3 linked regions of the Homo sapiens genome follow. The protein of the gene in region 3 interacts with the protein of the main gene of each other region in a biochemical or structural test. Each region holds a gene or a part of one and is shown on either strand. Other genes may lie near its edges.

The links. The genes of interacting proteins can lie anywhere in the genome.
Region 1: the proteins of SLX9 (region 3) and UTP14A are reported together in a solved structure, tested with the Homo sapiens proteins (one study listed by BioGRID).
Region 2: the proteins of SLX9 (region 3) and PNO1 are reported together in a solved structure, tested with the Homo sapiens proteins (one study listed by BioGRID).

The regions. Positions count from the first base shown.
Region 1 is NC_000023.11:129,901,060-129,909,184, reverse strand, and holds the start of UTP14A (U3 small nucleolar RNA-associated protein 14 homolog A), read right to left. Parts: upstream 3,022-8,125; 5' UTR 2,975-3,021; coding exon 2,949-2,974; intron 1,922-2,948; exon of another isoform or gene 1,819-1,921; coding exon 1,743-1,818; exon of another isoform or gene 1,126-1,742; coding exon 1,055-1,125; exon of another isoform or gene 632-1,054; intron 516-631; coding exon 451-515; intron 1-450. UniProt on the Homo sapiens protein: May be required for ribosome biogenesis.
Region 2 is NC_000002.12:68,167,451-68,174,908, forward strand, and holds part of PNO1 (RNA-binding protein PNO1), read left to right. Parts: intron 1-5,896; coding exon 5,897-5,967; intron 5,968-7,284; coding exon 7,285-7,352; 3' UTR 7,353-7,458. UniProt on the Homo sapiens protein: Part of the small subunit (SSU) processome, first precursor of the small eukaryotic ribosomal subunit.
Region 3 is NC_000021.9:44,970,611-44,977,513, reverse strand, and holds the end of SLX9 (ribosome biogenesis protein SLX9 homolog), read right to left. Parts: intron 4,318-6,903; coding exon 4,249-4,317; intron 835-4,248; coding exon 711-834; 3' UTR 541-710; downstream 1-540. UniProt on the Homo sapiens protein: May be involved in ribosome biogenesis.

The sequences.
Region 1 (8,125 bases), on a different chromosome or scaffold from region 3:
GGAGCAATAAAAAAGCAAAGGTTGAGAAATACTGTACTAGGCAAAGGCCCTTGAATAAGTAATGTGACCTCTCTGAGCTCTGGCTGAAGAGAATATTTGCCTGTCTCCTAACTCAAAGCATTGTTAAGAGAACTGAAATAAAAATGAAATTGTACAAATATGAATTATGACTAAGTTACTAAGAGGCAGCTGTCTTTATTCATGTCCATCTATCCTATAAGTATCTCATCAAACTCTGTAGGATACCTTGACCACAGCCTTCTAGGCTTTCTTTGAGAGATGGAAGAAACTGAAGGGCATCTGACTACACTTCTTCACCCACTCTCCCAGGTATTTATGGTATGAGTCATTAACCACATCAAAAACAGTTCCTAGGGGGGGTGAGGTGAACACAATGCCCTTGGAACTCCACAGGTTTCATGCATGGGTATCTTCCTTTGTTCAACTTACCTTCAGAACTGACATTGAACTCTGACACCTTCAGACTAGCCTCAGACCTCTCAGCCAATTTCCGCCTGAAATTAGGCAAAACGATATAATAGGAATGAATAAATTTTATGGGGGCTTGGGGTTGGGAGAGACAAACACTTCTCTCTTCAAACAGGGCTTTGGTTTCTTGTATTTCTTCTAGGGTCATGTTTTGTCATGATGCAGCAAGGAGATCTGTTCCTAACTTGGACTTGGTTGTCTAACCCTCATCTCTTCTCTTTATTACAAGGTAAGCATAGTGGAAAACATATTGGACTTAGATTCAAACACACCTGAACCTGTAACTTATGAGCCAGGTGACCTTGGGGGTAAGTAAATTTATTTCTCTAATGGGGTTAAATAATGCCTACTCAATGCTTTAAAAGATTTTCAGTGTGGAATAAGACTGCAAATGCTTACAATAATAGCACTAAGACTAATAACAGCTAACAGTTAATTATATAATGCTTACTATATGCTAGGCACTGGTATTAAGGTCTTTACATGAAGCACTCAATAAATATTAGCTGCAGAGAAATCTCACGGAATTGACTATATAACCTGCCCTAACTGACGGGAACGTTACCTATTCTTTCCATCAAGGGAACTGATTGCTTCCAGAAGCTTTTGATGCTTTCTCTCTCCATCATTGTCCCCCTAAGACACAGAAAAGGAAAAACAATCAGGATGAGGGGGAGGGAAAAGACAACATGGAAATTGAGTCTCATGTAAAATCTCTTGTTATTTATTTATTTATTTTTGAGACGGCGTCTCGCTCTGTTGCCCAGGATGGAGTGCAGTGGTGTTATCTTGGCTCACTGCAAGCTCCGCCTCCCAGGTTCATGCCATTCTCCTGCCTCAGCCTCCCAAGTAGCTGGGACTACAGGCGCCTGCCACCACGCCTGGCTAATTTTTTGTATTTTTAGTAGAGACGGGGTTTCACTGTGTTAGCCAGGATGGTCTCAATCTCCTGACCTTGTGATCTGCCCGCCTTGGCCTCCCAAAGTGCTGGGATTACAGGCATGAGCCATCACCCGGGCCTGTTTTGGTTGGTCTTATAAATTATACTTATGCAACTTGAGGGTAGTGATTGTAACTTAGTTTCCAAATCCTCATAGCACTTAATATGATACAGTATCTTATATATGAAACACTAACCATTTGCAATTTATTTGAGAGACCTGAACAAATACATAGAACATTGTCACACCCTTCCATTCCAGGAATGTGCTCTCTACCCTAATTTTGAAGGCAGTTTAGCAATTGTCACCCACCTCATCTTCACTCTCACTCAAGAGGTAGTCTTTTGGCAAATCCGCTAGTTCTTCCTGTTGGCTCAAAGCCAGAAGGCTGTTAAAAGAGGCAACAGAGAAATGTGAATGCAATATACCCATGTAACAAACCTGCATATGTATCCCTTAATTATAATAAAAGTCGAAATTAAAAAAAGAAATATTATTATTTGAAGCAATGTCTAATCTATTAAAACAATCTCGAAAACATTGTAATTTCAGCACAGAATAGCCCTATCCCTCAGAAGATATATAAAGCAGCGTGAATGCCTTTGGAAACTTGTCAAGATGTGAAATTTAGACTGAAGTCAGGCATCACCTCCAAGAGTGATGCCTGACTTCAAAACTGCATGTAAAAGAGCTATCACTTTTCAGGGATTGGCACAACATTTCCTATGACCTATGGGAAGCTGTAAAAATGTCAGACCCTAGAATAATATGGCCAAAGACGCTGTTGCTAGCTAGCCCTGGAGGCAAGGCAGTTTCACGATTAATATTTCTAAGCATCCTCCATATATTTGACTCATTGATAGGCAGCCTAATCAAAAGTGTTATCTTGATCCTTGTTCCCAGGAATGGAGAAACAGGTCGAAAGCAGCTGGGTAAGCCACTTTCCCTGGGGCTTGCTTAGTAAAGTAGGTGCTTAACTAAGGAGATTGGTACCCACAAACAAATTATAAAATGTACCATTACCTAACAGCATATATTATTAGTATTTGCAAAGCCAACATTACTAAACGGACTACATTTAGTTCCGGGGGCGGGGTGGGGGGGGCACAAAACATCACAGGAGCCAAAACGTGGTGGATGACTCCAATCAGCAAAGCTTTCCAAGATTCGGGGAGTTTATAACGCCTGCACTGCCTGCGCAGAGGATTAAATCGGGCCGCGACAGAGGCAGAAAAAGGGGCCACGTGACGAAAAATGTGAAACACAGTAAATGAGCTGGGGAGGCAGAAACAGCATCAGGACCAACAGGGATGCGGCTATACAGCTGAGGAGCGGAGTAAGCGAATGAAATTAAATTAAAAGGGCTTTAAAGGCTGGATCGCGGAAAATAGGAACGAATGGCCAGCTCTTCAGGGGAACCACTGCCATCTGTTAAAGGGGGGGCTCCCATTTCCCAAAAGCTGGGGAACCCGGCCCCCAACGAGACCCAGAATCCCCCCTCCCCTCGTTGCCCTTCACCTCTCTGCAAGCCGGTTCGCAGTCATTTCAGCAGCCAGCTTCTCTCACATGGACCAAGAACGGAAGCCGAAGGAAAGCAATTTCCGTGCGGGCCGCAAAGCAATTTCTGTTTCCGTCAATCGCTCGCGACGTACACGTCACTTCCGTTCCGTACGAGGCGTGAGAGAAGCAGGAGCCGTGTAGGGAGGGGCCTGCAGAAAACTGGGAGGCCTGAGATGAAACGGCTGTCAGCGGGTGGGGCATTCCTTTCTCCACCCACCCCGTATTTCTCTGGCGCGCGGGTGTCTGTCCTCCTGGCCCCTGGTTTCCACGTGGCCCAAGGTGGGTTAGCTTAGGGCGACGGTGCTGCGCTCTCAGGGGCTGAGCCCGCGCCTTCATTCGTCACTGCAGAATCCAGAAGGAAAGACTACAGCGCCCGTCCTTGTGCGACGGCGTCCTGCAAGCCGACCACAAGCCAGCTCGGGGGTTTATTGAATGCCTATTAAGTGGCCAGATTGTGCCGGGCCCCGGAGATCCGATGGTGAACATAACAAGTTTCCTTCCATTTAAGGAAAAATCGCCTTTGATCCCTTGTAATTGCAGCTTTGTTCTTCATTTCCTGAGTCAAAAGATTTTTTTTATCCAAGAAGGGGCCATCAGTAACTACGCTTCCTCACCTCCCATCAACTTAAAAAAATTTTTTTAAACAACTTTTTTTCTCCCATCAACTTTTAAGAATTTTATTTATTTATTTTTGAGACAGAGCCTTGCTGTGTCGTTCAGGCTGGAGTGCAATGGCGTGATCTCAGCTCACTGCAACCTCCACCTCCCGGGTTCAAGCGATTCTCCTGCCTCAGCCTCCCGAGTCGCTAGGATTACAGGCACCCGCCACCATGCTCGGCTAATATTTGCATTTTTAGTAGAGACGGGGTTTTGCCACGTTGGCCAGGCTGGTCTAGAATTCCTGGCCTCAAGTGATCTGCCCGCCTCGGCCTCCCAAAGTGCTGAGATTACAGGTGTGAGCCACCGGGCCCGGCCTAATATATATATATATTAATTAATGATTGTAGAAAAATAATAGACAAGAACATTCTTTTCATTTTTTTTTTTTGAGACGGAGTCTCACTCCGTCGCCCACGCTGGAATGCAGTGGTGCGATCTCAGCTCACTGCAAGCTCCGCCTCCCGGGTTCACACCATTCACCTGCCTCAGCTTCCTGAGTAGCTGGGACTACAGGCGCCTGCCACCACACCCGGCTAATTTTTTTTTTTTTTTTAAGTAGAGACGGGGTTTCACCGTGTTAGCCAGGATGGTCTCGATCTCGTGACCTCATGATCCACCCGTCTCGGCCTCCCAAAGTGCTAGGATTACAGGCGTGAGCCACGGCGCCCGGCCCGTTCTTTTCATTCTTGTAATCCATTCCCATTTTGCTTTTGCCCCATTATTCCACAGAAATTGCTCTGGACAAGATCAGCGACACCCAAAGTTGCTAAATAAAACGGATACCTCTCAGTCTTTGGCTTCCCAGAACTTTGTGTGGCATTTAGTAACTGTTGATTTCTTTTCTTTTCTTTTCTTTTCTTTTCTTTTCTTTTTTTTGAGACGGAGTTTCGCTCTTGTTGCCAAGGCTGGAGTGCAGTGGCGCGATCTTGGCTCACTGTAACCTCCGCCTCCTGGGTTCAAGTGATTCTCCTGCCTCAGCCTCCCGTGTAGCTGGGATTACAGGCATGCGCCACCACGCCTGGCTAATTTTTGTTTTTTTTTTTTTTTTGAGACGGAGTCTCGCTCTGTCACCCAGGCTGGAGTGCAGTGGCACAATCTCAGCTCACTGCAACCTCTGCCTCCCTGTTTCAAGTGATTCTCCTGCCTCAGCCTCCCGAGTAGCTGGACTACAGGCACATGCCACCATGCCCGGCTAATTTTTTGTATTTTTAGTAGAGATGGGGTTTCACCGTGTTAGCCAGGATGGTCTCGATCTCCTGACCTCGTGATCCGCCCTCCTCGGCCTCCCAAAGTGCTGGGATTACAGGCGTGAGCCACCGCGCCCAGCCTAATTTTTGTATTTTTAGCAGAGATGGAGTTTCGCCATGTTGGCCAGGCTGGTCTCGAACTCCTGGCCTCAGGTGATCCTCCCACCATGGCCTCCCAAAGTGCTGGGATTATGGGCGTGAGCCACCGCACCCAGCCGATTTGTTTTCTTATTCATGAAATATTTTTGGCCATCTAGTATGTGCCAAGCCTCTAGGCATTGGGAATACATTGGTGAACAAAGCAGATATGTCCCATTGCTTCCTAGAGCTTACTTTCTAGTGGGATTAAAGACAATTTTGTCATTGTTGAAACTCCATCCTGAGATTTCATGACACCATTCTCTCCTGGTATCAGCCCTATGACCATCTTCCTCAGTCTTCTCTGCTGGATGCTTTTAATATACTTTTAATATGCTTACTCCCTAAATGATGATGTTTCCGAGAATTCTGCTCTAAGCCCTCTTTATTTATTACAGATACTCTTCCTAAGTGAAATTGCCTTTAACAGCTGTATGAGAACAAAATTTATATCTCTAGCCCTAATCTCTTTCTTGAGCTCCAGACTGGTATATCTGATTGCCTCCTGGCTATTCTTTTTGCCCCACAAGCACATCAAACATAAAATGACCAATAATTTCTATCTTTTCCACCAGAGTTCCTTTCCTGAATTTCCCATTTGTATGATTGGCCCATCAACTACCCAGTTAGTAAAATCAGAAGTCTGAGAGTCATCTTAGATTCCCCTCCCCCTTATGCTCCACAGCTGTTTGCCCACATTATCAGTTTTACTTCCCTGAGTCTCTTTCAAATATCTCCTTACCTTTCTCCATCATGTTTGCCATTGTATTAGTTCAGACCTTTGCAATTTGAAGCCTGTGGTATTGCAGTAATCTTATAGAAAGGGGGAGCATTATAGCATTTTCATACTCATGAAATATGAAGAATGAACGAATAAATACATTTCATGATGAAGAACCTGAGTTTTAAAGCTGGACTCTGGGATTGAATCTTAGCTCTGTCACTTACTAGTTTTATAATTTTTTGGGGGGGTTGGGGGAGACGGAGTCTCGCTCTGTCACCCAGGCTGGAGTGCAGTGGCGTGATCTTGGCCCACTGCAACCTCCACCTCCCGGGTTCAAGCAATTCTCCTGCCTCAGCTTCCCAAGTAGCTGGGACTACAGGCATACGCCACCACACCCAGCTAATTTTTTGTATCTTAATAGAGACGGGGTTTCACCATGTTGCCCAGGCTGGTCTCGAACTCCTGAACTCAGGCAATCCACCCGCTTCGGCCTCCCAAACTGCTAGGATTATAGGCGTGAGCCACTGTGCCCGACCTAGTTTATAATTTTTGAGTAAGTCCCTTAACTCTCTGTGCCTTTGTTTCCTCTTATTTATTTATTTAGAGACGGAGTCTTGCTCTGTCACCCACGCAGGAGTGCAGTGGCTCGATCTCGGCTCACTGCAATCTCTGCCTCCCGGGTTCAAGCAGTTCTTCTGCCTCAGCCTCCTGAGGGGCTGGGATTACAGGCATGCGCCACCGCGCCTGGCTAATTGTTGTTGTTGTTGTTTTTGTTTTGTATTTTTAGTAGAGACAGGGTTTTGCCACATTGGCCAGGCTGATATCGAATTCCTGGCCTTAAGTGATCCACCCGCCTTGGCCTCCCAAAGTGCTGAGATTACAGGCGTGAGTCACCCCGCCCAGGCTGTTTTCTCATCTTTAAAATGGGGATAATAGGCCTGGCATGGTGGTTTACCCTGTAATCCCAGCACTCTGGGAGGCCAAAGCGGGAGGATCACTTGAGCCCAGGAGTTCAAGACTAGCCTGAGCAACAGAGTGAGACTCCATCTCTATTTTTAAAAACAAATAAAAGAAAATATTTGGGAAAGAGCAACAAAGAAAAACCCAAAACAATACTAAGAATACAATAAAACAATATACAGTATAATTATTTACATAGCATTCACATTGTATTGGGTATTATAAGTAATCTAGAGATGATTTAAAGTATATAAAGGTCGGGCTTGGTGGCTCACGCCTGTAATCCAAGCACTTTGGGAGGCCGAGGCAGGTGGATCACCTGAGGTCAGGAGTTCAAGACCTGGCCAACATGACGAAACCCCGTCTCTACTAAAAATACAAAAATTAGCCAGGTGTGGTGGTGGGTGCCTAGAATACCAGCTACTCGGGAGGCTGAGGCTGAGAGAGTTGCTTAAAACCCAGGAGGTGGAGTTTGCAGTGTGCTGAGATCGCGCCACTGCACTCCAGCCTGGGCGACAGAGCGAGACTCTGTCTCAAAAAATAAAGTAAAGTAAAGTAAAGTAAGGTAAGGTAAGGTAAGGTGAGGTGAGGTGAGGTAAGGTAAGGTAAGGTAAGGTAAAGTAAAATAAAATAAAAAAAAACAAAACATGTATATAAGAGTATGTGCATAGGTTATATGCAAATACTATACCATTTTATGTCAGACTTGAGCATCTTTGTATTTTGGTATCCATGAGGGTCCTGGAACCAATCCTTCCCAGATACTGAGGGACAACGTATTTGTCACATATTAAATGCTTAACAAATGTCATAATAATAATAATGATTTTACTGACCTTTTAGTCTTTAGTCTCACTTCATCTAATCACTTAAGTTAGGCCACAGCATGCCCCTACTTAAAAGATGCAAATAGACCCTTATCGCCAAAATAAGAAAAACTCTCTAGTCCCTGTCAGCCTCTCCATCCTCTTTGAAACACTTGCCACTTCCCTCAGGGTACTCCAAATTATATTTTTATGGACAGATGATGTTTTCTTAATCTTATATAAAGTATGAATAAAAGCATTTTAGAAAACATTGACATTTTTATTGGTCTATACTTAATCTAAGTAAAGACAGTGTGTTTGCTATGCAAATGCAGCTTTGAGACAGATCCCCTAAGAATTCCCTCTTCACAGTTTTAATCAGATTGCTGCCCCTTTTCCCTCTTATGTAGAGTTATGGAACAGCCAATGCAATATTTTAGCTGAGATCTAAAGGATAAGAAGGAGCCAGTTTTGTGAAGAACTAGGGAAGAGTGTTCAAGGCAAAGAAAATAATGTGGGCTGGCCGGGCACAGTGGCTCATGCCTGTAATCCCAGCACTTTGGGAGGCCGAGAAGGGTGGATCACCTGAGGTCAGGATTT
Region 2 (7,458 bases), on a different chromosome or scaffold from region 3:
AGGCCACTGGTGTTTACCTTTTCCCTTCAAGGATCGGGGTTAGCAGCTTTATAGATAACGGCAGTCCTGATCATAAACCTGACTGCATTTGCACAAAACAGTAAAGATAGCCTATCCTTTCCTGCATTAAATCCTGGTGTTTGCTTCTCTTCTTTACTAATAATTGCCCTTTGTGACATTTTTTTCCAGAACAGGACGTTTTTCATCTGCACAAAAAACCTGTTCAGGCAGATATTATTTCTCCTCAGTGATTTTCTTAATGGCATCTGGGAACTTGTCTGCTGCCCTTTGGTGAGCAGAAGCTGCTTCTCCTGTTACCCTGACATTTTTAAAGCCACCTCTTTCTAACATTATCGAAGCATCCTTTGCTGGCGTTAAGTTCTCCAGCTTTAGATCCTTCATTTTCCTTTTGCTGTAAGTTGTCATATAATGACTTAATTTTTTTCTCCATCATATTAGACTCTATAGATGTGTCTTTCTTAGAACAATCCTGCACCCACATAAAAGCTGCATTTCCAATTTGAGATTGTCAAGAAAAGAATCACAAGATCTATAAATTTGGAGAGGAAACTTTATTTCTTAGAAAGGGTTGCAGTCTGCAGGGTGGCCATTCTGACAGGCTGGAAAGTATAGCCTTCAGCAGAGACCAAAAGCAGGCACTCTGAAGGAGGAAAGGATGAGACAGGAATTTATGCTGAATGCGTTGGCCAAGTATACTTATTTAACAGGTTATAGGAGGAGCTCTGAATATAAGAGGGGTCCTAATGCTTGTATACCGAGTAAATGTACAACCCCTGGTCGCTTTGGGGTGGAGACTTAACATTTAAAATACCTGACAATTAGATCCTGTATGTTACAAGATGAAATAGGGACAGGGACATGACAACTGAATGCACTGCCTCTGGAAGCTGGTAGTACCAGTCCATGGTCAGTGATCTCTTATCAGGAGATGTTACTGGGATCAGTCTCTTGTCCAATCAAAGCTGTAGTTACTGTTTGTGGAACAGAGTGTGGGAAGAGGGAAGCTGGGGTCAATCTGTATCTAGCTGTTGGTGAGCTGTAATTGTTTTAATATTGTTTATCACAAGGCCAGTGCTTGTTAAGCTGCTAGAGAAAAAAAAATATCCTGTGGCAATTAGAATGTCATTTACTCTTTAAGTGTAGGGTGTATGACTTAACCCTTGCCCAGGTGGTCTTAGGTCTTGTTTACAATTTGATATCTTATTGCCACAGTCTGTTCTGTCTTGCCTGGGCGCCTAGGGGCTTTATTTTTATTTTATAAGATAAAGGGGTATTTGGCAAAACTGCAGGTGTATTCATATCTGCTGTTATAGCTGCAGTGACAGCTTCATGAATTTCCTTTTCTTTTTTTTACAATGGTCCTATGGTATAGTCATTTATCTTGAAGTGGTGGGCAACTGCAACTGCAGGCCTCAGTCAACAGTACCTATCAAGCAATTCAGCTTTTTTCTTTTTTTTTTTTTTTTTTTTTTTTTGAGATGGAGTCTCCCTCTATCGCCAAGGCTGAAGTGCAGTGGTGCAATCTCGGCTCACTGCAACCTCCACCTCCCGGGTTCAATGGATTCTCCTGCCTCAGCCTCCTGAGTAGCTGCAACTATAGGCATTTGCCACCATGCCCAGCTAATTTTTTTGTATTTTTAGTAGAGATGGGGTTTCACCGTGTTAGGCAGGATGGTCTCAATCTCGTGACCTCGCAGTCCACCCGCCTCGGGCTCCCAAAGTGCTGGGATTACAGGTGTGAGCCACTGCGCCTGGCCAGTTCAGCTTTTTCTTGTACTGTCATGACTTTTCTGTGCTGCTTTGGAGCACTCCCAACATCACTAGTGGCACTTTATGTGGGACCCACGTTGGGTGGGTCCTATGGTCCCAAAGCTTACAATATTGCACTAAGATTAAAAATAGGCAAGAACTGCGAGAAATCACTTTCTACTGTGATAGACAGTTTATTGGAGAGTCAAAACTGCTTATGGGAGATAATCAGCATCACATGTGATCAGCATCACATGGCATTCTAAGTGGATACTTGCAACACCTGAGCTCACCACAAGAGCAATAGGTGGTGGCTGTGAAGTTGTCGTACAGTATGCACTACAGTTAATTTTATGGAGTTATGATTTAATACTGCATCTTTGCATTTGTTTCCATTTCTCTTGACTACAAATGGCATCATATATGGCTTGTGTTTGTGTGCGTAAGTTTTAATTTTAACTTTTTATAATAGATTTGTGTATATTTTACGGTAGTAAATAAGATAGACTAGTACCTACATACAGTTTATGCATTCATGACGTAGCTTTTTCTTAATTTTTTTGACATTTCTACGATACTTAGCTCCTCTCTGGGTTTTTTCACATCTCCAAAATATCTTCCAGTATATGTGTTGAAAAAAATTTGTGTGTAACTGGACCTGTGCAGTTCAAACCTATTATTCAAAAGTCAGCTGTATTACATCTTGTTTATCCAGTCACAGTAGATGGACTTTTGGGTTGTTTTCAGTTTGTGGCTATGAGAATAATGTTGCTACTGAATTACTTATATCTTTTGTGTTTTCTTACAAACTGAATTACAGACTACTTGAAATTAAGAGATGTACTATCTCTTGCTTTTGCTGTAGACAGGCTAGTTGGAAATCCACGTTTAACAGTTTATATTAATTATAATAAAGCTGTTAGATGGGCTGTTGTGTACCTATAAAAGTTATTTTTGATGAGTTGCCAATAACCTGGCAAAATACAGTAAGTATAATGTGAGCCAGATAGAAAACTAAAAACAATTGGTTCCAGGTATGTTTAATACAGCAGATGGGAAATGATGTTGCCTCTGTGTCTTGAAGCCTCCATTCCTTTCCAACTATTGCCCCATTACTTTGGTTCTTTGTGCAGCAAAACTACTCCCATCTGTTCTTGTTGTCTTTATTTCCTCATCTGTCATGCTCTGTTTTAAATAATTTTAATCAAAGTTAAACATACACATAGTTTTAAAAAGCCAAATATTGGCCGGGCGTGATGGCTCACACCTGTAATCCCAGCACTTTGGGAGGCCGAGGCGGGCGGATCACAATGTCAGGAGATCGAGACCATCCTGGCTAACACGGTGAAACCCCGTCTCTACTAAAAATACAAAAAAATTAGTCGGGCGTGGTGGTGGGCACCTGTAGTCCCAGTTACTTGGGAGGCTGAGGCAGGAGAATGGCGAGAATCCGAGAGGCGGAGCTTGCAGTGAGCCGAGATTGCGCCACTGCACTCCAGCCTGGGGGACAGAGCAAGACTCCGTCTCAAAAAAAAAAAAAAAAAAAAAAGCCAAAAATTTCTACTGCCTACCTCCATTTCACCCTTTTCAGGGGAACCAATTTCAACTCTTTTAGCTTATCTTAAAAAATTATTTGTCTCTGTATTTCCAGATATTTTGTTCATATACAGCCTCTTATTTTTCAGATTCACTATTGACTTTCTACCATCAAAGATGAAGATTTAGCTGTCTTTCACCCCCTTACTTCCACTGCACACACTCAGCCTTTCTGTCACTCCGATTTATTCTTCTCTGTCCTCCTGATGGTCCCCTTGTGGTTTTTGTTAGATTCGTGTTCAGTATTACCTGAAAACAGAAATCAGTGCTCAGTGTACTTATAGCTGAGCCAGGTGAAATACTGTGACTGCCTTATCTTTCTTTTGCAGCATTGTTTTCACTTGAGGAAGTAACTCTTATGTGTCTATGTCCTTTCTTCATTTTCGTCGTACTAATTCAGTAAGAAGCTATACGTTGTCTGTATCTCCTCTTGATGTATTCGAATGCATCTAATATTTGAGAAATCTCTCCTGGAGATGTTCTGTTCCAAAAACGCCCCCATGCTTTCTGCGTGCATTCTGGCTGCACAGCCATCATCCTGGGTTCCCTGTCCCCTGCCTCTTGGAGTCTCTTTCCCAGAGTTCTGCTTCTTGATATTCCTGCTGCTGATTTAGGCATCAGTTGACTTCGGTCTGCACAGTCAGTTCCATCTCCTCCATCTGCTTTCCACCTTTTTGGACTTTGCTACTGTTATTACTCTCTTCTTCCTTTTGGGCTTACATCTTTCCTGTCATTTTAGTGGAGTTTGAGGAAGGAGCATTTGTAAATGTTTGTTTTGTTCATCTGCAGGTGTCTGGAGGAAGAGCATTACAGAGGAAGGGGAAAGCACAAAGATCTTGAGTTGAGGGCACATCTGGCAGTGAGCGAGGAGGCTTGACCAAGGATGAAAGGGAGAGAGCGGAGAGTGACAGATGAGTCAAAAATAATAGGGCCTCACTGAGGTCATCATAAGGACTTTGGCTTTTACTCGGAGTGAATAGGAAGTCATTGGATGATTGTGAGCAGAGGAAGGGAGGTGGGATGTGAGGGGGCGAAGGGCAGTGAAGGTGAGTAGGATCCATAGATGGGAGGTCCTGGGGTAGGGGTGAAGGATTATTTGTGTTGATATGAGTGGAATGACAGAAAGTGGTGAAGGGAGAGTTGGATGTTTGAAATCGAAATTATGGGGGGGTTGCAGTTTTTGGTAATGACCAAGTCCAGGGTGTGACCATGGATGGAAGAGGCTGGAGTAGGGTGGAAAACAAGACCCCATGTTGGCATAAAGGATATCAAGGACCTGAGAGGCTGGCATGTTGGGATTATCATCTTCATGGGTATTGACATGATCGAGCATGGTGATGGGGAATAGCAAGAGAAAGCAAGCCAAGAGCTAACATCTTCACAGGTGATCTGTAGGGGCAGCTGAGGACCGCAGCCAGGCAGGGTGGTGGGTGATGTGGCCTCAGAGCAGATCCAAAGCCAAAGGGTTTTTAGGGAGGCAAGAGGGAGAGCATGTGGTCTGGATGTGGCATGAAGACACCTGCTCCTCCCCCAGGCCCAGAGGTACCTGGTTTGTGGAGGAAGAACTGGCCACCATTTGAGATCTGGCCTTAGTTGAAGCCAGAAGGTGAAGGGAATATTAACAGGGGTTGAAGATATAGAAGCTTTAGCTGATTTGTACAGGGCACAGTGAAAACAGTTTGGAAGATGGACTCAAAAAGGCAAAATTGTATCTTGTCAGTTTTGTCATTCAGTAAAGAATGCCCATTAAAAGGGTCTAAATGATCCTCAGAGCCCTGAAGAAATTTAGATAATCTTTAGGAAACTTTGCAGTTGAAAACCAATTATGTTGAAATTGAGTACAGTATTGCATTTATGGGTATTCAGTAACCAGCTCTGCCAGTGTGTCGTCTTGGGCAGGCTTTTTGATTTCTTATAAACTTCTCTCCTCATCCGTAAAACAGGAAGGTCATGTGAGGATTAATGAGGGCATGCATAGAAAGCCCTGGCACATAAAGCACTCATAGGATGGGAGCCATCATTAACCAAGAATCTTCACAAATTTTTCTTTTTCAAACAATTCTTTGTCTTTTCTAATAATTTTTTATTGGGATACAATTCATATACCATAAAATTCACCCTTTTAAAAAGTGGTTTTTAGTATATTCATGGAGTTGTGCAGCCATAACCACTGCCCTCATTAAAGAATCTGACTCAAATATCATGATTTTCCAGCATTTTTGGAGTACAGGACTTAGGTAAGGAAATGCTTTTTTGTCTACAATGTCTTTTTTTTTTTTTTTTTTTTTTTTAAGAGAGAGGGTTTTGGTCTGTCACTCAGGTTGGCATGTTGCACTCTACAGGCACGTGCTACTACACCCAGCTAACTGTTGAATTTTTTTGTAGAGATGGCGTCTCATTATGCTGTCCAGGCTTGTCTCAGACTCCTGGCCACAAATGATCTACCTGCCTTGGCCTTCCAAAGTGCTGGGATTACAGGTGTGAGTCATTGCATCCCAGCCACTAATTTGTCTCATTTTATTTCTTTCAGGAAAGTTCACATCCTTGGCTCCTTCCAAAATATCAAGATGGCAAGAACTGCCATTTGCAACCTAATCTTGGGTAATAGCAGTTTCTTTCTTTGGTGTTTTCTCTGGGAGGGATAGGAAGTTAATTGAGGAAGTCAAAACCACATTTGCAAAGCAATTTAGGGTAATATTAAAGATCGCAAGTAGAAACCCTTGGGAGTTGGCAAAGGTGGGCCTAGAGAAGGAAGTAGAATTTTTTTTTTTTTTTTTTTTTTCTGAGCCAGAGTCTCGCTGTGTCGCCTAGGTTGGAGTGCAGTGGTGCGATCTCGGCTCACTGCAACCTCTGCCTCCCAAGTTCAAGCGATTCTCCTGCCTCAGACTCATGAGTAGCTGAGACTAAAGACGCCTGCCACCTTGCCTGGCTAATTTTTGCATTTTTAGTAGAGACGGGGTTTCACCATATCGGCCAGGCTGGTCTCGAACTCCTGACCTTGTGATCCGTCCACCTCAGCCTCCCAAAGTGCTGGGATTACAGGCGTGAGCCACCACGCCCAGCCAGAAGTAGAAATACTTTTGCTTAGATTCCATTTGTCTGCAAGAGAAGAGAAGGTGTTTATTGGGTAATATTGCTTAAATCTTTGCTGCCTTCTTGATAAGGTGCAGAGAAAAACCATTCCAGAATAGCAGGGAACATCACATTTTAGGTTTAACAAAGGAAGAGCTGCTGAACAGCTTCAGGCAATTTAATTGATCCACTTAACCCATTTTCTTGATCCTGCAGCAAAGTCAGTACTTTCTGATAAGAGTTGCAGGATCTTAGCGGCTTGCTCAGAAAATTGGGATTTTCTGGTTCTCAGGCCTCAGTGATTGGCTTCTTTTTGAAATATTTTAACAACTCAGTGCCTTTCGCTCTTAGAAGTTTAAAATATTTTTTGGAGAATATTTGGGTATTATTTCTGTTAAGGTTTTTTTTTTTTTTTTTTTTTTGTAATTTCCAATTAAAATGTCTCTGTTCTTTTTAGGGTTCTAGACCCTTTTTCACGTACAGTCTGCCCTCTGTCTGCAAGGTCCACATCTGCGGATCGAACCAATGGCAGATCAAATACTCAGAAAAAAAATATATAAAAATAATGGCAAATTAAAAATAATACAAATTTTAAAACACAATACAGTACTATTTACATAGCATTTGCATTGTATTAGGTATTATAAGTAATCTAGAGATGATTTAAAGTATATGGGAGGATGTGGGTAGTTAATGTGCATATTTTTTATGTAAGAGACTTGAGCATCCAAGGATTGTGGTGTCTGTGGGAGTCCTGAAACCAGTCTTCCTTAGACACTGAGGGACAACTGTAGGCGCTATAAATGTGAGTTTATTTGTGTATATACTTTTTTTTCCCCTTTGCAGGAAATCCTCCTTCCAAGGTTTATGGCAATATTCGAGCTGTGGCTAGCAGATCAGCAGATCGATTCTGATTTCAAGTCAGAGACTTTTTATCTTGCCTTTGGACTCTGGTGAAAAATACTTTACAGTGGTCGGTCACAAGAAACCAGCTGAACAATTTCAGTCATTTGAAGCCTC
Region 3 (6,903 bases):
AGAGCAAGGCAGTGGGCTGCCTGGGTGTGGAGCAGCTGGGTAGGGTGAGGGCAACGGGTGGGGTAGGGGGGGTGCAGCCCACAGGCGAGGAGCAGGCCGGGGGCCTTGCCAGGGCCATCTGTGTCCCTGGTCACTGAGGATGGCAGGGGAGACTGGAAGGGAAACAGACCCCCAGGTGGTGAAGGCCCTGAGCCAGCCCCCACGGCAGCCCCTGCAGGCCTCAGTGCTCCTGGATCCTACCAGGGCCGCAGCAGGAACTGAGGCTGAAGCAAATCAGGGCGGCTGGTGGCACAGCTGGGGCCACACCCAGGCACAATTCCTTCCCAACACAGCCAGCAGACTATCTTGTGGGCACCAGCGCCTGCTCAGGGACGGACTTGGGGCCTCCACAACTGCAGTCCCCACAAACCCTGTGCACGGTCCACCCTGACTGCGTGGGGGCTGGGGCCCCCAGTGGAGGGATGTGGCTTGTTGTCCTGAGGAGAGTGGGGGCAGCTGTCCCAGGGTGTGCCCAGCCCTGTGAATCAGGGAAGCAGCTCATGGGAACGGCCCTGGCAGTGCAGGGGAAGTTCACAGAGCCATTTATTGAGCCCCACAACCGACCAGAGGGAAGGGCGTCCACCAGGCTCAGGCCATGGTCCTTGAGGGGCCGGCGCTCTCTACTTGGCCCACATGTGTCCTGAGGAGTTGTGGCATGCCCGCTGCCCTGGTCAGAGCTGGCCGCCATCTTCCAGCTGCATCTGCCGGGCCAGCGTCTGCCCGATGGCCACCAGGGGGCTGGCTCTGTAGGCCGGACTGGCCAGCAGCTCCTGAAACCGGGTCCTTTCTTCCTCGCTGAAAGAATGGAGACCACAGATCAGCAGGCAGGAACCCCCGGACCCCTCAGCCCCTCAACACCCGGAAACGTCAGACACCGAAATGAATGGCAGAGGCCTGGGGCCACCACGGGACTGAGTACTGGGGCCTCGGAAACTTCCGGCAGGAGGGGAGAGGCTGCCCCGGGCCCTCCTCGTGGCCACGTGCATCCCAGAGCCCTGGCAGCGCCCACTGTGGGGTCTGCCGTTGAGGTGTCACCCAGCCAGCAAGTCTGGGGCTGATGGGGCTGCCGCCAAGGCTGAGAAACGCGGCGGCAACTCCCAAGCCCTGCAGACTCACTCCTTACATGAGAGACGGCTCCCTCCACGGGCAACCAAAATAGGTGCACACAGAGGAGAGCCGAGAGCCGAGAGCCGAGAGCCTGAGCCGGCAGAGGCCTGCAGCAGAGTGGGGCGCGGCAGCCCCAGATGGGTGCCACGGCGACGACCCAGCATGGCACCAGCTCACCCCAGCCGCCACCCAGCCCGGCGGCCACTCAGCTCCTGCTCTAAACCCCGCGCAGCCAGCCGCACGCCAGAGAGCTGCCCTGTGGAACACAAAAGGTGGCCTGGGTCCCCTCTCAGGCACAGAAGCCTCGGGGGCAGCTCCCAGACGGGCTCTGCCGCAGCTGCCAAGAGGCCCTGAGCCTGGTGGCGGGGAGGTGGGGCCTGTACCCCTCCGGCCTGTGTGCCCCGTGTGCACGGAGCCTTGTGCAAGGCTGGACCACACTGGCCCTGGTTTCCTGGGCAGTTGACAAGGCTCTTTCACACCCCGCTGGACGACCGCCTGGGCGGGGTGCCCACACACCAGAGCCACAGAGGACAGTGGGGCTGGGGCCGTCTCCACAGCAGGAGGCGGTCAGGGCTCTGCTGGTCACTAACCACCACCTCCTCCTGCCACTGCCACCCTGGCCCCAGCATGGCAGCTGGGGCTGTCCCCGTAAAGTCAGGGTGAAATGCCCCAGTCACAGCCTGGACATTACTAGTGATCTCTGGGGCTACCAGGACCCAACAAGGCCCCACCTGGGGCAACTGAGGAGCCGAGGCCAGGGGAAGGCCCAGGCCAGGTTCTTAGCACTGTGGTCCACTGGGCAGAGTCCTGGGTCAGAGCTGGGGAAGGAAAGGAGCCGTGACAGTGACGCTTGGAAGCGAAGCTGCACGGGGAGGGGCTGCAGGGGGAGCCTGTGCCTGCGCCTGAGTTTAGACACTATGGGACACGGGTTCGGTGCCCCTGGCACTGTGTGGCTCCCATGCTGGGCCAGGCCTCCAGATGCCATCCTGGACAACCGTAAACAGAGACCCATAGACGGGGCCTCCCACCTGAGAGAAAAGCCCTTCCTTGGTTTCGTACTCAGGGGAGCAGCCTTGGGGCACGGACCACCAGCTCCAGGAGCTACAAGGCTCATGCCCAACATGAAGCCCCCAGGGGAGCATGACCCAGGGAGGGGAACACTCTTGCTTCCCACTGGGATCTTGGGATCGAAGGATCCAAGCCACTCAAACACCTGAGCCCTGTCCACAGGCGCCAGAAAGCACCATGGACATGAAAGGGAACAGACCTCTGGCTCCAAAACACGGAGTGAACAAGGAAGGGGCCTCCTGCTCTCCTCTCAGAAGCAGCGAGAAACCAAACTCCATCTTTGATGAAACCAGGAGACCCGTTAACCTGAGCTGCTTCAAAATGCCGCGACCGCAAGGACATGGGGGCACCGAGGGGTGCGGGCGACAGACAGTCTGCAAGAGGAAAACCCGTCGCCCTGTCCAGGCAGGGAGGGGCTCCCCGGACCAGGCTGTGCACTGGGGAGAGGCGGAGAGGGAGGCCAGGCAGGACGATGGCCACACGGAGAGGGCTCTGCTGTTCGCAAACTGTCTCCAGACAAGACTGGCCTGGGAAGAACTCAGTTCATAAACAGAGAAGCAGAAACCAAAGAGGACAAACACAAAGATCTACGGGAAGACCCTGCTCCTCAGGAGGCCGAGGCAGGAGGATCGCTGCAGCCCAGGAGGCGGAGGCTGCAGTGAGCCTTGATCACACCTCTGCACTCCAGCCTGGGCCACAGAGCAAGGAACTGTCTCTAAAAAATAAAAATAAAAACTTTTTAAAAAACTAAAAAAGACAGTTTACTATACTATCTATACTTCACCTAGACCCTACAAAGTGTCTAGAGTAAAAATGGATTAGAGAACATGAGATGGAAGACAGATAGATTAGAGAGATCCAGTAAGTGCATAATTGGTGCCCCTGAAGAAGGGCCGAGACAATAAAGAAATCTTTGGAGCTACCATTCGACACCAGCTTCCCAACATAACTGTACTCACAAAACAGACAGCAGCTTCTAAGCATAATCGAACTCACAAAACAGACTTCAGACTCTCAACTGGAAAGGCACAATGGGCCTCGGTAGAACTGACACAAAACGCTCCCACTGATAAACACCTGAGTAAAGCCATTTCAAACCACAGGAAAAATCATCCCAGCAGCTAACTAAAACCATCTTACAAGGGCGTAAAATGTGGCTCTCTCAGTGGAAACTGGAGCTGAGTCTGCAAAGAGGCAAGAGAGCGTGCGTGGTCTGGAGATTTTTGTACCCAAGAGGACAACTGAGTACAAATTTCTGCAAATCAGTGTCCTAGCCCTGCTAACTGGGGGCCGCAGTGCCCAGTCACAGAACCAAACGTATCATCCAGATTTCAACCAGCCAGCGGAGGGGAGGGGCGGAGATGGGGCTGCGTCCACCCATCATTTTAGATCCATGACTCCCCTTGGAAGCCTTCCTGGGAGGCGGGACTTGACCCAGGGCCACAGGACCTGACTGCACTGAAAAGCCCCCCTGGAGCAGACAGGCAGGAGCCAGCGGAGCAGCGTGGAGGGGACTAGAGGCACGGGCGGGGCTCTCAGCCGCTGAACCCCTGGGAGGGCAGGCTGGAGGCACTCAGGACCCCTGGAGAGGGCGGGGTGGGGGCACACAGGAGCTGAACCCCTGGAGAGGGTGGGCGGGGCGAGGGCACATAGGAGCTGAACCCCTGGAGAGGGTGGGCGGGGTGAGGGCACTCAGGAGCTGAATCCCTGGAGAGGGTGGGCGGGGCGAGGGCACATAGGAGCTGAACCCCTGGAGAGGGTGGGCGGGGTGAGGGCACTCAGGAGCTGAATCCCTGGAGAGGGTGGGCGGGGTGAGGGCACTCAGGAGCTGAACCCCTGGAGAGGGTGGGCGGGGTGAGGGCACATAGGAGCTGAACCCCTGGAGAGGGTGGGCGGGGTGAGGGCACTCAGGAGCTGAACCCCTGGAGAGGGTGGGCGGGGTGAGGGCACATAGGAGCTGAACCCCTGGAGAGGGTGGGCAGGGTGAGGGCACTCAGGAGCTGAACCCCTGAGGAGGTGGGCAGGTGCACTCACAGAAGCTGCTGTCTCTGGGCTGCGCTCATCCGGCTGAGCTCTGAGGGCCGGGGCTTGTTGCTCTCCCTGCTGTGGACACAGAGAAGCCACGTGAGTCAGCATCCAGCATCCCCTAAACACCTTCCCGTGGGCAGAGGCTGGCTCCTCCCTTCTTAGAGCAGACGTCGTGGTGGCCAGAGGTGACCAAACCACTGCAGAACCACAAGTTCCAAGCTGCACTGTGGCCATGGAGGCGAGACCTGGACAAGCAGTGCAACTGCCTGACCGTCCTGTGACCGCCCCGGACAAGCAGTGCAACTGCCTGACCGTCCTGTGACCGCGGGCCCCAAGCTGCTCCGTGTGGAATCTGGTGACTCCTGCAGCTCCTCCTGGCTCCATGGGACATGGAGGGAGTGGTCAGCCAGGAACACGTCTCACGATATACAGCGTCTCCACCCCACCTGCCTGGCCAGGGCAGGCTGCGCAGACACCTCACACTTCGGGCCAAAGGACCCTGGCAGGCACAGCCAGTCCCACTCCCGCAGTACACACCACTTCCCAGGAAGGCTGAGTCACCCACCCAAGCCTACATGTCCCCAGGTCCTCTCTTTAGAAGAAGGCGCACGCTGTGCTACAGTGGGAAGCTGCACCTGCCCTCCTGATGACTGAACTTGGGGACAGGGGCGTGGACCCACCGTAGATCCTGCCCTGCCTGCACCTGCGGGGGGTGCCAACGAGCACTGCAGTCCCCCATGGACAGGTGGAGGAACTGAGGAGGTTTCCTGAGTGCTGCTGGCTATTTCCTTTAGTCCTGGGATCTCCAAACCACCAAGCTGGGCCTTGACTAAGGGCACGGGCGGGCCAGGACACTCTCATCTCTGACGTCCACCCCAGGCAGGCTCCGGCTGCCCGCGGAGCTTCTCACCCTCAGTTAACCGTGGGAATCTTCGGGAGCTCGCCTGCACTCCTTGTGGTCAGCCGGCCAAGGCAGCCGCCCACCTGGCCGAATGTTCACATGGGACAGCGACCTGGGCCTTAAAAGGAACAGAGAACCCGCAAGGCCACACCAGGCGCCTTCTCAGATCTGCCGTCCACACAGTGAGATGGGACCCAGACGACGGCGGGAAGGCAGAGACGCAGAGTCCTCAGACCAGCCCTACACTTAGCCTCGGGCCAGGAGACTTCATCTTTTATTCATGGATCTCTTAAAATATGAATGACAGACATTTTGTGTCTGCCCAAAATAGCCCTCAGCACCCGCTTTCTTTTAACCCTAGCTCTGCGCTGATCTGGGGAAGGAATCAGTCCCCATCCCTTCCTGCTCACACTGGCAGATGACAGCCCCTCGCATCTCCCGTCCCCTCTGCCCGCTCAAAGCCACAGCTCCATTCATTGCAGGGGCTCTGCCGGGGCTGACGACATCTCCCCACGGCCTCTCCTGGGCCAGCCTTGCCCCGATGCAGAAGCTCTGCCCCCCTGGCCAGCCGACCCCCTCCCTGTGTCCACCCCTGAGCAGCAGCTCCCTCACTGACTGCCCAGAGCTGTCCCCGGTCCCCATCCTTGCAGAAGCCATCAGCGTGGGGCCCCTCCTCTAGGTGCACCCTGGTGCCAGGGCTCTGGGCAGCCACGTGCTGGGTCAGGAGACCTGAGCCCGGGTCCAGGACATCCTTCCTGGTTGGGGAAACCTCGGGCCCTGGAGCTGCACCCTCACTTTAAGAGATGAACTAGCAGTGGGGGTGGGACCAATGCCTCCCAAGGTCCCAAAGCAGAGGAGCTGCACCCAGGGTGGCTGCAGTGCCCATGAGGCCAGGCGCGGCACCTCCCCTCCCCACTGCGGGGACCGTCCCCCACCCACGCGTCCCACACCCCATCCTCCCAGGCGGGACGCACAGCCTACCCAGTGGGGTTTCCGGAGTTCAGGGCCCCGGGGACAGAGTGCTGGGCGGTTACCGTCATGGGCCAAGGGCAAGCACCGGCAGGGACGCGACTCCACGAGGCCTAACAGCAGGAAGCCGAGGAGGAATTGGAGCCTAACTCCGCCCAGTGTGGACCCTCACCAGCCCCCACGGCACTCCCTCCAGGCAGGAGCAGCGGCGTCACCACCACTCCCCTCCCGACAATCACCCACAAAGCGCACACAGGAGGCGGAGGTCCACAGCATGGGGGGTCCCCTCCCGACAACTGCCCACAAAGCGCACACAGGAGGTGGAGGTCCAGAGCATGGGGGTCACCGGAGTCAAGTGTCGCTCGATGCCTGCTTCCCAGCCAGGAGTGACGTGGACCCCAAACACGGGCCCTGCCCTGGCCTCTGAGATTCCAGCTCTGCATCCTGCACCCCAGGGGCATGAGGCCCTCAGGGCAGGGCGCCAGGACAGGGGATTGAGGGAGCTGGGTTGGGAGGGGACTGAGGGGACTGAGGGTTGGGAGGGGCCGTGGGGCAAGGACCCAATGCTTGGGTTCCACAAGGACAGCTCTGCCAGCCCAAGCCATATGTTCTCCCCACTAGGTGGGAAGGGGAGAAGTGAGAGACAGAGCTCCAGGCTGGGAGGGAGAGGCTGTCCACCCTCCAGCCTCCCAGGCCACTGGTGCTCGCCTGCTGACCCCTCAAGCCCAAAGCACATCAGAGTCCAAGAGTGGTGGTCAGTGGGGCAGACCTGCCTGCCGGGACCAAGATGC